Linked DNA regions of Homo sapiens. The protein of the gene in region 1 purifies or fractionates together with the protein of each later gene. This does not show direct contact. Each region holds a gene or a part of one and is shown on either strand. Other genes may lie near its edges. The genes, in order: MOGAT2 and CLCN3.

The links.
Region 2: the proteins of MOGAT2 (region 1) and CLCN3 purify together in Homo sapiens (affinity purification with mass spectrometry; one large-scale study listed by BioGRID and IntAct). This does not show direct contact.

The regions. Positions count from the first base shown.
Region 1 is NC_000011.10:75,730,453-75,733,587, forward strand, and holds the end of MOGAT2 (2-acylglycerol O-acyltransferase 2), read left to right. Parts: exon of another isoform or gene 1-250; intron 251-679; coding exon 680-834; 3' UTR 835-2,501; downstream 2,502-3,135.
Region 2 is NC_000004.12:169,693,454-169,697,280, forward strand, and holds part of CLCN3 (H(+)/Cl(-) exchange transporter 3), read left to right. Parts: intron 1-2,158; coding exon 2,159-2,239; intron 2,240-3,735; coding exon 3,736-3,827.

The DNA.
Region 1 (3,135 bases):
AAACCTGGCAGTGGTTCTTCCTGGCTATGTGACCTTGAACAAGTCAGGCAACCTCTCTGAGCCTCATTGACTCATCTGTCAAATAGGAATGACAGGTTTTTATACCCATAGGATAAAAGGGAGTATTTCATGTAAAGCACCTAGTGCATTGCCTGACACATTGAAATCCAGCCACTGGCTGGGCGTGGTGGCTCACACTTGTAATCCCAGCACTTTGGGAGGTCGAGACGGGCAGATCACAAGGTCAGGAATTCAAGACCAGCCTGTCCAATGTGGTGAAACCCCATCTCTACTAAAAATACAAAAATTAGCTGGGCATGGTGGCGCATGCCTGTAATCCCAGCTACTCGGAAGGCTGAGGCAGGAGAATTGCTTGAACCAGGACGCAGGAGGCAGAGGTTGCAGTGAGCTGAGATTGCGCCACTGCACTCCAGCCTGGGCTACAGAGCGAGACTCTACCTCAAAAAAAAAAAAAAAGAAAAGAAAAGAAAAGGAAGAAAGAAATCCAGCCGTTGTTATTATATCAGAATCTTGGAGTTGCCCTAATATCTTAAAATTCATTAGGGTTGGAAGGAATGGAGTAAGAGCACTTTTCTGCAGGGATGAACCATGGGGGTGGGCACCTGCACCGAGGGTCCCTTGCCTACCCTAGGCCACTGCACACCTCTATGCCTTGCAGTGGGGAAGCCCATCGAGGTACAGAAGACGCTGCATCCCTCGGAGGAGGAGGTGAACCAGCTGCACCAGCGTTATATCAAAGAGCTGTGCAACCTCTTCGAGGCCCACAAACTTAAGTTCAACATCCCTGCTGACCAGCACTTGGAGTTCTGCTGAGCCCAAAGGGCAGGGCCAACATTAGGGAGCCCAGCAGGAGGTGCTGTGCTGAGAAGACTTCCTGGAGGTGTTTGTTGAACATATCTGCAGAGCCTTCCCAGACTCCTGCAAATCCAACCCATATCAGGCTGTAAGTCAGAGCAGGCAATGCAGAAGAGGAGACCAGACCAAGGGGTCAGCTGGGGCTAGGACAGTGAGGGCTGCTAGAGGGGCTGGGCCTCTCTTTGCACATGGACACTGGGCCCCTCTCTATATTGAGTGGTCTGTTAACATTCATTGGTGGCTGATTCCAAAAGATGAGAGCCAAAGCTGCACGGACTCGAGTCCTAGGCTGCACACCTCACAAGCATCTCTTCTACTGCATTCTGTTGGTCGAAGCAAGTCACAACCCAGCAGATTCAAGGAGTAAGGAATAGGATCCCCCTCTGGATGGGAGGAGCAGCAATGTCATATTACAAAAGGGTGTGGACACATGCAGGGATTCTTACTGCCGTCTTTGCAAACAATCCACCAAAACTTAAAAACTAAAAGCCTGAAGCACAAGCACTCTCCACCCCAGGCACACACACCCTGGAATTCCCTGTGTGACCATGGTACCACCACTGTGTGTCCCGAGGATCCCAGCTCAGCTTTGCATCGCTGCCCTATCTCCCTCTCGCTCTCCCCTGTTGATCCCTCATGCACAGCCACAGCGAGCTGTCTAAAACACAAAGCTGACCGCGCCATTTCCTACTCAGCATCCTTCCATGACCCTCCATTGCTCCTAGGATAGGGTTTGGACCAGTCTGAATCCAGAGGATCAGGATCCAGCAGGAACCAGAGGATAATTTGAGGAGGGTTTAAAAAGGAACCATTTTTTGAGGTGTGTGCACTGTTTCCACCCTGAGGCCTGGAAGGATGAATGGAAGCAGCAGTTCCTGAACCAGGAAGACTCATGTGTGGGGGCCATTGCTGGTCAAGGGGCACGAACAGGTCTGGTGACCCTGCAAGGGAGGAGCCAGGAGCAAGCATTCCCACTTCACCTTCCTCCATTCAGTCTGCTGCCAAGTTCCCCACTGCCTGAGCCCAACTAGAAGCTGGAGGGAAGGAGGGCCTGTGGCTGCAGTCCAGGCATGTAGGCCTCCTGGGAAAGGGAGAATGGCAAAGACAGGCAGAGTGGATCTGGAGGGGTCAACGGAAGACGGAACATGTCCACTTCCAGGCCCGAGCTTCTCAGCCTGCCGTTTGCCACTCTCCAGCATCTGGCCCAGCCTGTCCATCCTCATCTCTCTTCCTCCCTTACTCCGTGCTCCCATCACTCGGAACCATTTGCATTTCTTTGTCTCAGCTATATTGTCTCACCTCTGAGTTTTTGCCCATGATGTTGGATGCCATGGAATGCCATATCCTCCCCATTATCTCCCCCTTGTCTGGATAATTCCTACTCATCCTACAATACTGATTTTATCTGTGCAAAGAAGTCTTCCCCAGTGCCTCTGGTTGACAGGGGTTTCCTCTGGCTTCTCCAGACTTTCTGTTCCTCCACCACAGCCCTTAGCACCCTGGGGAGGAGGTGTTGCTGTCCAGGTAAATGCTGCGCCAATGCCCCTGCCTCTAGTGCACTCCCTCCAGCCTACCCACAAACAGGACCTGCATCCTGTCTCACAAATAAAACTGAACTCTTGAAATGGTGTCCAATGCCTCGGGATAATGCCTAAACTCCTCCTCAGCCTGGCATTCAAGGCCTTTATCATCTGCCCTCTAGACCCCACCAGCCTCACCTCTGGACCCTCTCCCCTTGCCACCTGTCACTCCCGCCCCCTTCGCTGCTCTCTGAATATACTCTGCTCTTGCACTGGCTTATTTAGGGGCGCACCGTTCCCTTCCTTCTGGAACACTCTTTCTTCTCAGTCTGGTCAGCGTCACTCACTTCCAAAGGTCGCCTCCTTTGTCAAACCTCATCCTACACTTCTACCCTCAAACTCTGCCCTTTGCCCTGAATCAGCCCTCTTTTGCACTGTCTTCAGGGATGAAAGGGTCATAGTCATTCATAGGCGAGTGTACTTCTCTGTCTCCCAGTGGACTGGGAACCCCCTTAGGCCCTTATCCATGGTGGCTTCAGCCCCATTCAACCCAGCTCCACCGCCAGCACAGGACCTCAGCATCCCCAGTGAGTGGGAGTTGGTTGAGTAAATGAATTCTCACATGTGTGCTTCCTCTCAATCCCACCCACATGAGGCCTGGGGCAGGGATAAGGGGAAGAAGACTCAGGCTTTGCCTCCGAGGTGATTAAATTAGTTCTGCATCACTGCATGACAGATC
Region 2 (3,827 bases), on another chromosome or scaffold:
GTGATTAGTAAACTAGGGCTGAAAACAGCTAACTAACTTGCCCGAGACTACATACCTAGTAAGTGGTGGAACGTAGGTTAAAATTCATTTTTCTTTGACTTCAAAGTCTGTGGTCTTACCTACTTACATTACTGCCCTTACGACTATGTGGGTATATATTTGTGTGTGTTCAAAACAAACTCAAAACCATCCTGTAGCGTAGCAAGTTAGTGGCTAAGATGAAGCTAGAGCATTTGCCTCCTCAATTCAATTCCATTACTTTCTGTTGTACCTTTATATTTTTTGGTAAGACTTTTACTTATTCTAAGTTCAAAAAATGTAATTTATTAGATGTTTGAGAAATTAAGTTTACCTAAATTTTAATGTTCATACTGTAGTGATTAGTTAATGTTTAATACGTTGTTATTCTGTCACCTTAGTGTATATATAAATGGCAAGAATTCACGGTTAGTTGAAAGCATTAAGGTCCCATAGTTTTGTGTAGACAAGAGGGGAGAGCGTTGATATTTTTAAATTAAATGCTTCTTAGATACGTATGAAATGGATTAAAACATGTATATGAGTTATAGATACCTAGGTGTTAGTTTGGTTGTAAATTCAGGATCAGGACATTCAAATAAATATGTTTGCTTTCCTCTTAGTGGAGGAAAAAAAAAAGAAGCTAAATTTGCTCCCTTTCCTCCCCAAATAAGCAGAGTCTACATTTTAATGCCAACAATTTGATTAAAACAAATATTTATTTACTTTTAATTCACCAAACTTTTATAAAGTATTTACTGGTGCCAGGCACTGTTCTAAAGCACTCTGTATATATTTACTCAGTCCTTAAGAGCTAAGTAATATTATCACGTTTCCATTTTAGAGAAAACTGAGGCACATATAGGTTAGGTTATCTACCCATAGCCATACAGCTAGTAAGTAGCAGAGCCATGATTTCAACACAGCAGCCTGACTATGGAGTTCATGATCTTAACCATTTACAGCTTAATTTTTATTATTTATAATTTCTCTTCTGGAAATGTAACAATTGACCATTTGAAGAAATACTTTAGGTAGCTTTGGATATTTGCTGTATTAAAGTAGTGAAAGTAATACAGACACTTGGCTGGGCGCGGTGGCTCACGCCTATAATCCCAGCATTTTGGTAGGTTGAGGCAGGCAGATCACCTAAGGTCAGGAATTCGAGACCAGTGTTGCCAACATGGTGAAACCCCGTCTCTACTAAAAATACAAAAATTAGCCGGGCGTGGTGGCAGGCGCCTGTAATCCCAGCTACTCGGGAGGCTGAGGCAGGAGAATCACTTGAACCCAGGAGGTGGAGGTTGCAGTGAGCTGAGACGACGCCATTGCACTCCAGCCTGAGAAACAAGAGAGAAACTCTGTCTCAAAAAAAATAAAGGAATACAGACTCTTAGAAAAATAATTACAAATAAAACCCTAGTGAAATTATAGGTATAGTTAGGTATAGTTGGCTTACAGGTGGGAAGTAGACCATTACCAACTGATAGACTGGGGAGCTGGAGAGAGGACACGGAAGAGTGTCCTTGGATTTTTCTTTTCCTTTAATTTTTTTGTAGAGGTGTTGGTTGGTGAGACTGTAACTTGAGGAGCTGTTGTGTGTGCTTTCAGAATGAGGCTCTCTAGATTGATAGTATTTTAGCAGTATTTCAGAATGCATAGGGTAGTGAAAATATAGGGAATCTTACAAGGTCTTCGGTTCCCTGCATATCTTGCTACGATTTGGAATAGAGTATTTATGGTGGAGCAGTTAGCTCTAAAATTTGAAGAAATGATATCCTATTTAAAAATAGCTCCCCATCCCAGTTACTGCCCTCCCCTCTTACCTACACAAACATACGTCTTGAAAATTGTCTATATTCATTGCCTCCTCCTCTTTACACCCTATTCACATTAGTATATCTGGCAAAAATTTTTTTTAACTGAATGGTAAATGCATGACTGACCTTTCAATTAAAGCCAGGAGAAAGAAACAAATCTTAATAGAAGAAATGAATAGTTACCCTTTGCTTAGGGAGCAAGGAAACATGCAAGTTAAATTCAGAAAATCCATTTGGAAAATTCAAGTAACATGAAGAATTTTTATTTGGTATGTTTGAATTTCTATGAAATTATGAAATAAGCCATATCCTCTTTCTAGGTGCTATCAGCTGCCTCAGCTGCAGGGGTTTCTGTAGCTTTTGGTGCACCAATTGGAGGAGTTCTTTTTAGCCTGGAAGAGGTAGGTGAAAAGAATACAACAATTAAAATTATATATAATTACCATTACAAATATATTTCACACATTTCAGTTTTGTAGGTGATGTAATAGGTAGAGACTTTGTTTTCAAATTTATTTTTCTAAAGTTGTTTTCCACTCATTCTTAATAAAAAGTAAATGTTATTCATGCTCCATACCTGGAGGAAACTTTTTAAAAATTTATTAATGTATGAATGTTAGTAATTATTTAAAATCTAACTTTGTTGACATATTTAAAAGTAAGAAGATGTGAATTTGACTTAATAGAGGACATGTGAAACAATCTATTTCCATTGGCTAAATTCTGTATTTTTAGTAGAGATGGAATTTCACCATGTTGGCCAGGCTGTTTTTTTGTGGGGTTTTTTTGTTTTGTTTTGTTTTGTTTTTGTTTTTGAGACGGAGTTTCACTCTTGTTGCCCAGGCTGGAGTGCAATGGCGCGATCTTGGCTCACTGCAACCTCCGCCTCCAGGGTTCAAGTGATTCTCCTGCCTCAGCCTCCCAAGTAGTTTTTGTTTAAAAAATTTTAATCAATTCCTATGTTGTGTTTTAAAGTTTTTCCCATGTGATTATTTCTGATACAGTTAGTGATGTTAAAGAAAATAATTTTAGTGACTTCAGTGGATTATTTTGTTTTTGTTTTCTTAATAGGTGTTTAAGACTTTTCTTTTTACATAAAAATGTAACCAGGAATTTTTTTTTAATTTTTTTTGACAAATAATAATTGTTTTTGTTTATGGGGTATAATGTGATGTGTCTATACATGTATACATTGCGGAATAATCAAATCAGAGTGATTAGCAAATCCCTCAAATATTTATTATGTCCTTGTGGTGGTGAGAACATTTAAAATCCTCTTTTAGCTATTTTGAAATATATAATACATATTATTAACTGTGGTCATCTTACTGTGCAATAGAACACCAGAACTTATTCCTCCTCTGTAAGTTCATACCCGTTGACTAATGTCTCCCCTTTCCCTGTTCACCTCCCCAACCCCTAGCCTCTGGTAACCCCTATTCTACTCTCTACTTCTATGAATTTAACTCTTTTAGTTCAAGATGTTTTTAAATGTACTTTTTTCTTTTAGTTGTTTGTATTCTTTTTTTTTTTTTAATGTAGAAGAGGCAAATTAAATGCATTATAAGTTAACAGGAGTTGGTGATGGTACATTTATTTTTAACTACCATGATTGAATTGAATGTGAAACTCATTTTGAATATAAAACAGCACTAGGTATTCTATTAGTATTTATTAGACATTTATGATCAATTGATACTGTCAATTTGTAATGATGATCACCATCTCCAAAAATAATAATAACATCAATTTTTCTTATTACAGTAAAATCCATTACATGTAAATTCTAACTACAGCAAAATTTAGAGCTAGGATATTTACCATTCAAGTTATAATATATCAGAAACATCTTATAAAATTATAGCATTAATTTTTCTTTTCCTTTTCTTTTTTTTAGGTTAGCTATTATTTTCCTCTCAAAACTTTATGGAGATCATTTTTTGCTGCTTTAGTGGCTGCATTTGTTTTGAGGTCCATCAATCCATTTGG